Linked DNA regions of Homo sapiens: region 2 is linked to region 1. A link means that fine-mapping ties the variant in region 1 to the expression of a gene that starts in the linked region. Tissue or cell type: whole blood. Region 1 holds a variant in brackets; the other region holds the start of a gene. All regions are shown on one strand. Distances are from middle to middle.

The links. PIP is the estimated chance that this variant, and not a neighbour inherited with it, causes the effect.
Region 2: SH3PXD2B starts here. The variant in region 1 is fine-mapped to the expression of SH3PXD2B in whole blood (TOPMed, PIP 0.99).

The regions. Positions count from the first base shown.
Region 1 is chr5:172,410,810-172,415,955 of GRCh38, reverse strand. All of the region lies in intron 2 of SH3PXD2B (SH3 and PX domains 2B), which reads left to right. Among named protein-coding and RNA genes, the nearest start is that of SH3PXD2B, 41 kb to the left of the region's middle. RefSeq lists an enhancer at 2,754-3,255. The variant T/C (reference allele first, on the strand shown) is at 2,909.
Region 2 is chr5:172,452,221-172,457,366 of GRCh38, reverse strand. SH3PXD2B (SH3 and PX domains 2B) reads left to right here and starts at 2,842. Exons shown (of 13, transcript NM_001017995.3): 1 at 2,842-3,089. The coding sequence starts at 3,015. RefSeq lists an enhancer at 3,355-3,876.

The DNA.
Region 1 (5,146 bases):
ACTTGACATCTGACCACACGTCTCATTCACCTGAGGGTGCAGGAAATGGGATAGAGCCCTGGGCTTGAAATAAGAATACCTGGTGTCGGGTCCTTCCCTCTGTCTTACCAGCTGTGCGGCCTTGGGATGGTCACCCAGCCTCTCTGATTCTCCCTTTCTGCCCTGGCTTGGGACTACTCTGGGGAGTCCATCAGTGTGGCAAAGGAAATTGGCATCCAGGCAGAGCACTGGGGATGACTGGAGTGCCCAGAGAGCTGAGGGTAGTGCCTAGCAGAAATGTGGCTGGGTTGAGCCACATAGTAACAATATCGGCAGTCACTAACTGGAATGTGCCAGATGCCCATCTTATATGCCATCTCATTCTGTCCTCACAGGCATGAGGTCAGTATTGTATCCATTTCACAGATGGGGAAACTGAAGCTCAGAAAGACAGAGTCACATGCCCAGAAAGCAGCATGGCTGGGATTCAAGCCCAGGTGTGGCTGGATCTGAAACTTGCACTCCTAACCTCCCTGCCTCCTTGGGCCCCGGGATTGCCTTTCAATCTGCCTATTGAAAGATAGATTTACCCACATAGAGTCCTGCCTATGGCTGCCCCTTTTTAAGGCCCATTTGGCTCCTCCCTCTAAGATACAGGCAGAGTCTATCCACAGAGGGCAGTTCTGACCAAAACATGAGCCCCTCTACACTGTACCGTGCAACCTTTGTCTTCTGAGTTCCCACTGGTTCATTGTGTCCCCCAGGCCAAGGGTCATGGTCATCACTGGAGCCAGGGCTTCCCTCACAGAAGGCGCAGTTAAACATTTGCTAACCTAGACCTCGAGCTGCCACAAGGGACCCAGATGGATCTCTGCTTTCCATAAGCTTCCAGTGTAGTGGGAATAGGCACATGTTCTTTCAGATAGAGAGAAATCCAGGTGTTCACAGAGGGACCTCCCTCCTAGCCAGGGAGCTCAGACAGGGCTCACTTGCTGGAGGAGGTGACATCTGAGCAGGGTCTTGACAATGAATAAGGAGTGGCCCCTCCACCGAATGGGGGAGGGCATTGCATGCAGAGGACACCTCATGTGCAAAGGTGCAGAGGTGCAATGGAGCAGGAGTCTTAGCTGGGCATCTTCCAGAATTCCAACATTGGCAGGGGGGCACAGAACCAGCTGAGTCACTCTGCCCGTGAAGGAGCCCTCGGGAGAAATGCCAGCCTCATCTGTAAGAAGGAACACTCCCTACGGGGAAGTTCATGCTGCAGAGATCCAGAGAAGCTTTTCTGGCTCCTCTCCTGCTCCGCACGCTGTGCCAGAGCGTTGCTGCTAGGCTCAGGGGCTTACGGCTCGAGCAGTTCTTGGACGCCTCAAATCACAGGTGGAGGCTGCATCTCCATCTATGCCTTTGTCTCTCCAGAGACTGTCCCAAGTCATGCAGCAAAAACCGCTTGTTTCCAGTTTCCATTGAGCTAGGACTGACCCATCCCCTTCTTTTTTTTTTTTTTTTTTTTTTTTTTTAAGATGGAGTCTCGCTCTGGAGTGCAGTGGCGCGATCTCGGCTCACGGCCACCTCCGCTTCCCGGGTTCAAACGATTCCCCCACCTCAGCCTCCGGAGTAGCTGGGATTACAGGCACGCGCTACCATGCCCGGCTAATTTTTGTATTTTTAGTAGAGATGGGGTTTTGCCGTGTTGGTCAGGCCAGTATTGAACTCCTGGCCTCAAGCAATCCACCCGCCTCAGCCTCCCAAAGTGCTGGGATTACAGGCGTGAGCCACTGCGCCCGGCCTTGACCTGTCTCCTTCTAAGACCCTGGTCCTTCCACCTCGGCCCTCTTGGGAGTTTAACAGCCCCAAGTGTACTTTTTAAGACTATCTGCCCATAAGCCCCCATGCTCCACTGCAGAGGCCAAAGGGAAGGGAGGGTTTTCTTCCAGCTTTTCTGAGGACAGGTCTAGGGGATGGCAGAACTGAAGAGTTTTCACTCCCTAGGCAGGCATTGCCTGGCCGGGAAGCCTTCCCAGCAAGATCCCAGCCAACATCTGGCCCAAGACTCCACCAACCATATTTATCCAAATACTGCCTTTACTCCATCCTCAGACACACTTTTTCTCCCAGACATTATCTTCTGGAATTGGAGTATGCCTCCAACGTGTTGTGCATACTTAAATGGAATAGTTTTCCCTTCCCACTAAAAGCTATTACCATATGGAAGGTGTGTCACTGGGAAAATACCGTAGTTGCCTTTTTCCACACAGTTAGCAATTCTTTATTTCTAAAATAGAAAGAGGCATGATTATCTTGGGCAGTTGCAGCTAAACTCAGGTCCAGGCCCTGTTGCTGCCACCTGGTATGTAATTTTTCCTTTCCCAGAGAGTGGCTGACCAAACCAGTTAACCACTTTTTCTCATTTGTTTTTTCATTCATTCATTCATTCATTTACTCATTTGTTCTTTGCACAAATATCTAACAGGTGCTTACCGTGTACCAGTGAGGAGGTAGTGGGGCAGAAGAGAGGGCCAACAGTAGTAAGGGGGTTGAACTGAGAAAATACAGGCCTGGACTTAGGGGGAGCAGTAAGTATGGAGAGAAGCGGACAGACCGGAGGTGGTGGCAGCCTCCGTGCAGCACGTCCATCAGGACACCAGACACATTGATATTTAGACCAGCTCGTGGAGGGGCCAGAATCCTCAAAGACAACAAACCACAGATGGTAGACTAGGCCCAGGGACACCGTTGTGTTCAGGGCCCTGAAAGCCCTGCCCCAGGACCTTGTGGCTTTCTGCCAGCCTGCAGCTGCGCATGATGGCCCCAGGCCTTTCTCCACTTCCTGCTCCGGCTCCGCTGGGACTTGGGGGTTTTGTGATATTGAGGGGGTAAACCCCTCCCAAGTCCAGCCTCAATGGCTGCTGCTAACGCAAACCACGTG[T/C]GGTGGCCAGCTTCCATGGCGTGTTCTTTGGACAGCGTGTCTCGCATTCCCTCTACCGCAAGCTGATGTCTTGAAAACTGCTGATGGAGTGTTCTCTCTTTCTTCTTGGAAGCCTGTGATGTGGCAACTTGATGTGACTCCTTCTCCCTTCCTACTCCCCAAATGACTCATCTTCCTCTTCAGTTTCCAGTCCTCCTCACCCTGAGCGCCACTTCTTTTGTTATCTGGGGGGAGCGCGGGTAGTGGGTTTTCTCATTACCAAGGATGACATGGGTTAGGCTTTGAGGAGCATGCCTCTGCTCCTGCTGCTGCAGACAGCCTGGGCCTGGTCCCTTGGAGAACCTACTTCAAGGCCTTTGGATGCCTAGTGTTACAGTTCTCTGCATAGATGCAATTGGTGGCCGTAAACCTGGACACACCAAGACCAGCTCGGCAAGGAAAGCTTGCAGGGCTCTAATCCCCCAGCATCTTATCCTGAGTCCTAGTCTTTGCAACTAGCAAACTCACAGATGGCCGTTGACATTGGACACAGTGATGAAGAAAACGAAATAAAATTGGATGTGGTTTAAATAGGAGGATATTGTGATAGTCCAGCCCTGCACTGTCCGGGATGGCAGCTGCTCGTCACATGAGGGTATTTAAATGTAAATTCAAGTCAATTAAAGAAAATTTTTAAATTGAGCTCCTGAGTTGCAGGAGCAGCATTTCACCTGCTCAATAGCTACCAGGAGGCTAGTGGCCACTGGATTGGACAGCAAGATGTAGAACACCTCCATGATGGCAGAAAGTGCCAGCAGACAGCCCTGCTACAGCCACGGGGCCACCCGGGCAGTCCTGAGGGGTTTTTTGCCAACCTTAAAACACAGCCTCACAATCAAATATTATTCAGCCTTAAAAAAGAAGGAAATTCTGCCACATGCTATAAAATGGATGGAGCTTGAGGACCTTATGCTAAGTGAAATATGCCAGTCCCAAAAGGGCAAGTACTGTGTCATCCACTTATTGGAGGTAGCTACAGCAGTCAGATTCATAGAGGCAGAAAGCAGAGTAGTGGTTGCCAGGGCCCAGGGGGAGGGAGAGGGGGGAGTCACAGTTTCAGTTTTGGATGATGAAGAGGTTCCAGAGATGGATGGTGGTGATGTTTACACAACATTGTGAATGTGCTGAATGCCACTGAACTGTACACCCAAGTGTGGTTGAAATGGTAAATCTTCTCTTGTGTATATTTAACACGATTAAAAAAAAAAAACCACACAGCCTTACAGACTACTAAAAGTTATCCCCAAATAACTTTCAAAATAACATATTCAATATGGGCAGAGTGTAAGGAGCGGGGATTTCTTGCTGAGCATCTGGTGTGCTCCCCAGAGTTTCCACATAGCACTCATTTACCCAGCCCCGCCGCGGAGCAGGCTGCGTCCCTCATCCTGCAGACGGCCAAACAGGCTCAGGGATGAAGTGTCTGGCCAAAGACACACAGCTGGCATGAGGAAGCATCAGGATTGAACCCCAGGGCTGTTGGGTCCCCAGCAGTCATGTCTGTGGTTAGACTATGCAGTATTTAAACCCAGATCTGCCACCTCCAACAAATAAAACAAAGGGAGGCCTTTCAGCTCCTTGGGCCATGCTGATCTGGGTAAAATCAAGTCAGGACAAAGGGCAAGAGAGCAGCTTCTTAAGACCAGGCAGTAGAGACCCCTCTGAGGACTGAAAAACACAGCAGTGGCAGGGACTCATTGGCTGACATGTACATTCAGGCAGGGACTCCAAAGGAACCCGGAGATTGGAAATAGTCATGTTAGGGTGGACAGATTACTGGTGCATTCTTTAAAAAAAAAAAAGTTCCCTTTAATGGTGTTTCATTGTCTTAACAAATAAAATTGAGAAGGGAAAAAGTAGATAGTGTTAGGCAAAAACCTATAAATCTCTAACATACTCCACAGCTGAGACTGATTAATGGCTCTGCTTTCGAAAAGAAAGCATGCTGTTCACATGTGCACAGAATATTAAACTTACCTCATCTCAGGCTGACTTTTGTGTTCACGTGACACTCTGAAGCTGCCTCAAAGAGTGGTCTTAGGCAAAAAGAATGGAATTTAGACAAAGATGCATGGACTGGCTGGACACACCACTTAGCTGTGTGACTTCAGGCAAGTTCACTGCCCTCTCTGCTTCTCAGTTACCTCATCTGTGACAAGGGGAATGTAACATTTATGTCACAGAGTTACTGTCAAGGTC
Region 2 (5,146 bases), 41 kb before region 1:
TGGAAGACAGTTTAGGGGCTCCTCAAAAAAAAATTAAACATAGAAGTATCACATGATCCAGCAATTCCATTTCTTGGTATATGCACAAAAGAATTGAAACCAGGGACTTGAACAGATATTTTTATACCAATGTTCACAGCAGCATTATTCAGAATAGCCAAAAGATGAAAACAACCCAAGTGACTGTTGACAGATGAATGGATAAAGAAAAAGTGCTATATACATATAATGGAATATTATTCAGCCATAAAAAGGAAATTCTGACACATGCTACAACATGGATGAGCTTTGAGGACATTATGCCGAGTGAAATAAGCCAGACACAAAAAGACAAACATTGTGTGTTTCCACTCATATGAAGTACCTAGCATAGTCAAACTCATAGAGATGGAAAGTAGAACAATGGTTGCCAAGGCCTGGAGGAGGTTGGGGGGCAGTGGGGGGGGACTCAGTGTTTAATAGGGACAGAGCTCCAGTTTAGGAAGATGAGAAAGTTCTGGAGAGGGATGGTGGTGACAGTTGCACAACAATGTGAGTGTACTTAATGCCACTCAACTGTATGCTTTAAACATGGTTGAAATGTTAAATTTTATGTTATGTATTTTTTACTACAATAAAAAAGTAAAACAAAGGAAAGATACGTAAAGATGCAGGGATAGCATCTTCTGCTACTGGTGGTTGTGGGGGGACCTTTGTCTTCCCCAGACAGAGGAGACGGACACAGCCAGCAGGACCCACCTCTGCCACCCATGGTGTGGCTGGGGGCAGGTCTCTCTGCCTCTCCGGAAAAACCCAGGAAGCTGGCTGATTCAGAGAGGGCCTCTAGCTTCTGCCTTCTTAGGAAGGCTTGGCTCCTAATAAGGCAATGCACGATGTGGCAGGGACGGAAAAGCAGACCTTCACTTCTTTGGACATTTCCAATGAGGCCTCAGGACCCTCTGGCTTGGGACTGTACTTCAGAAGAATGTGCCTTACAGGAATTACATGAGTGAGGGTCCTGGCACCGAACAGATGCCACCCTCAAGCTGGGTCCATGAAGACAGTTTAGTAAAGGGTCAATGTATACGGGTGTGGGCGGGGCTAAGGAAGCACCGAGGATGGCGTAGTACCCAGGGCTTGCAACAGCAAGACTGTCACTGTCCTGAGCAGAAAAGTGGCTTCAGGAACCCTGAGAGAGACCATGTGAGAAAGGGCACCTTTGGTAAAAACAATCGGGGAGGAGGGGCTTAGGGATTAAATACCCAGACCTCCCTCTCTCCTCTTGCCCTCAATCTCCTGCCAGGCCCTTCCACTGGCCAAGCCAAACAGGAAGACCAGGACAGAGAGCTGTCAGTGAAATCCACACAGGCCAGCCTCTGGGGCTGGAGCAGGATGGTAAAGTCTGGCAAGGAAGTCAGAGGAGCAAATGGAGGGGCGGATCCAAAGTGAATCAGCCCAAATCATCCACGTGGCCTGGCCGAGGCTGAGAGCCGTCCTACCCTGGATAAGCCCACCCTTTTCCAAAGGCTGATCCTGGACCGGGGTGGGAAGTAGCTCTGTCGTGGCATGGAGAAGAGTCGTACGGTTTGTTGAAAAGAGCCCCCACTTACTGGCTGTGAAAACACTGGCCAGGAGCCTAAACCTCCCATCCATGCATTATATATTCATTTATCCATTCATTCAGCCAACATCTCCTGAAAGTGACTCAGTGCCCAGCCAGTGCTAGGAGGCACTAGATGAAGAAACGAGGAGCTGCCCCAGCCACGGCAGCTTCAACGTGTGAGATCCACCTAGAGCCAGGCAGTGACGGGCTCCATCCACCGGCTCCCTGACTCTGGACCTTCACTGATGTAATTCCTGTAAGGCACATTCTTCTGAAGTACAGTTCCCAAGTCAGAGGGTCCTCAGGCCTCATTGGAAATGTCCAAATGTCTGGAGGCCGTCCTCTGTAAAAACACCTTTTCCTCCTAGAGTCTGCCTGAGGATGCAAAGACAGCATTTGTGAAAAGCAGGGGCCACGGGGCCCAGCGAGCAGTTAAGTGCTCCGCAACTGGAAATCGATGGCCTTGCTAACAAGCACCCAGCTGCCCCTCACACATAGTCACCACCCTTTTATCCCCTTTTGTTGCTTCCATGGCAATTACATTGCACGTATGCGCATTTGTTGCAGTTTTTCTCTCCCTCACTCCCCATGTCCCAGACTGAGGCTGGGGGAACCTGGTCACGGGTCTCTTGCTCCTCCTGAATCACCAGGGCTTGGGGTGGCTTTAGGAACGCCAGCACTCATACCATGGACTGCACTGCGGAATGGCTTCACATGCACTTAATCCCGGGCGCAGCACCGGCAGGCAGGCGGTACTACTGACACGTGCTACAACATGGATGAGCCTTGAGGACATTATGCCGAGTGAAATAAGCCAGACACAAAAAGACAAACATGGTGCTTGTACTACTAGGCTCATATTATAGACGAAGAGACCCAACCCAGAGAGGTTAAGCAACTTGCCGAGGGCACAGAGTGGAAAAGCGGCAAAGCCGGGATTCGAACCCGGGTGTCCGGCTCTCCAAACTGGCGGTGGATGGCGGCTGCCGGAGCGAGAGTGCTGGAATGAATCGATACGTCAATCAGTGAACGGGCGACGGGGTCAGTCCAGTCCCCTCCCCCGGCGCGGCGGCTCAGCACCGGGACAAAGGCCGGGCGGGGGCCGGACGTGGCCGGCGGGGTTCGCGCGCGGTGGGCGGGGGTCGGGGCCGGGCCCTTTAAGGGGGGCGGGCCGGCGGCGCGGGGGGCGGTGCGGGGGGCGGTGCGGGGGGCGGTGCGGGGGGCGGGCCGGGGGCGGGCGGCGGCGGCTGGGCCCGGCTGGAGTGCGCGCCGAGCGAAGGGCGGCGGCGGTGGCGGCGGCGGCTCGTGCTCGGCCCCGGCTGCGATTGCGCTCAGCTCCAGGTTCCCTGCCCGCGGCGGCGCGCCCCCAGCGCTCCCTGCACCCCGCGCCACCCGCACCCGCGCTCGGCCCGCTGCGGGCGGAGGAGCGGCCATGCCGCCGCGGCGCAGCATCGTGGAGGTGAAGGTGCTAGACGTGCAGAAGCGGCGGGTGCCCAACAAGCATTATGTGAGTGCGGCGCGGCCCCCACGCCCCCTTGAGCCCGCGCCCCGTCGGGGGCGACCGAGGGCCCCCGGCTTGGAAAACTTCTGCCTCCAGCGCTTCCCGTCCCCTCCTCCCCTGCTCTCCCCTCGGCTCTGCGGCGGCGCTGCCCGGGTCCCTCCCGACTCCTCCTCCCTCCCTCCCCTCCCCTCCCCGCTTTTGCCTCGTTCTCCCCCTCCATCCCTTCCTCCCGCCTCGCCCCCCTACTCGCCTCCCTGCGGCTCCTCTACCCCTTTCTGTCTTCTCCGTGTCCCCCCAACTCCCGTCCTGCTCATCTGTGGAAAAGTCTGGCTCCAGCCGGTGAGGGGTCTGAGACAGAAAGCGGGAGAGACAGAAGTGCCTGTTCTCAGGCCGCCCGCCTTGCCCCTCCTTGTCCAGAGGCGCGCAGACCCGCAGTCCCCAGCCACAGGTAGCCCCTCTAGGGTTCGCCGAATTTGACTCCGTTCTTTGGCAAGAGCCGGCCTGGGCGATGGAGGAGATCTCTGGGAATGGATCATTTGAGTGGCTACGCCTTTAAAGGGTTAAAAACATCCCCTGCCCCCTCTCTCCAGTAACTTCTGTTTTAAAATGTACGAAAGTTTTCTCCTGGCATCTCCCTCTGGAACATGGGAATCTTGTTTGGAGCTGGCAAGGACTTGAGAAAATGGGACAGTAGCGTCGTTTTGCAGATAGGAAGGCTGAGGCTCAGAGGTTGCAGGTCCTGGAACATAGAGCTGCATTCGGGCTTCCCTCCCTCCAGCAGGGGTGCCTGGGGCTGACGGTGACCTGCAGGTGGAAAGTGGCTTCCGCAGCAACCTAGGGGACACGTCTGCAGATTCAGGAGGCCCTGGGACCACCTCGCAGGTTCTAGGTGGAGATAAAGGGGATGTGGGGTGATGGGCCCACATGAGGCCTTGGGGAGGGCCTCATTACAGCAGGGAAGGGGGCTATAGTGTCTCTGGCGGTGAGAAGTGGGCAGTGGCGGAGCCTGGCTGCAGAGAAGTTAACCAGGAAGGGAAAAAGAGTAAGAGGGAGGGAAAAAATCCTAACAAAGAAGTATAGAACAATGAATAGAAAAGGGCGTTGGCTGGCTAAATTAAGCTCCTTGGCCTCCCTGGAAGTCGTCTTCAGATCTTTTTTTTTTAAGAACTAATTCTTACAAAGTAGATCTGCATGCCTTCCGTGAATAGCCTGTGAAATTCTGAAAGGAGATAGCCGGGAACCCACTCCGCGCTCTCCACAAGAAAGGGTGTGCTGTGTGAGTCTGTATTGTTATTGGCTGGGCAGCCAGTTATTCAGCCCTTAGCCAGGCGGTGGGAAGCTATTTCCTGGACCTGTGGCATCTTTATATAGAGTGAAGTTTCCCTTGATTCCAGAGCTGAGCTAAATTGTCTTTTTTTTTTCCTTCCTTTTTTTATTTTTTGTTAACTGTTTTCAAATGCTGCCAAATCTTAGTTTCTTGTTTGAGCCTGTTAGCGTGTAAGTGAGTTTGCCTCTTTGGCATGAAGACAGTTTTCACCAACATGGCAACTGGAGGAAGTCTGGAATTCTCCATGCCACCTCCCACCAGGTCTGTGAGCTGGCAAAAACGAGAATAGATACTGCCACCGAGGCCCGGCCATCATCGTCCACGCGCCCTCTTCTGGCCTCTCCTATCACGCCCATATCAGGCAGAGGGCCTTAAGCCCATTTGACAGATGAGGAAACCAGGGCTCAGCAAAGTGAGGTCCCACGCCTAAGGTCACAGTCAAGAGCCAAGCAGGGATGTAGATCCAGGCCCGCTGGACCCCAAAAGGACCACACCACTTCCCACATCCGGTACCCCTATAGTTTCTCTGAGCAAAGTCCTCTGAAAAACTGGGAAATCTCTCTTATCATTAGTGAAAACCTGGAAGCTTTTCATTCTCTGCTGTGTCAGCTCCATCCTTGCCAGTTTTTTGAAGGTTTTGCGCTTTGAGAACCGTCTTTTGAAGCTTTCAGCCACTTTTTGGGGGCCCCCTGAGACAAGTTTCTATGTTAAAACATAGATTGGGATTCAGATCTTG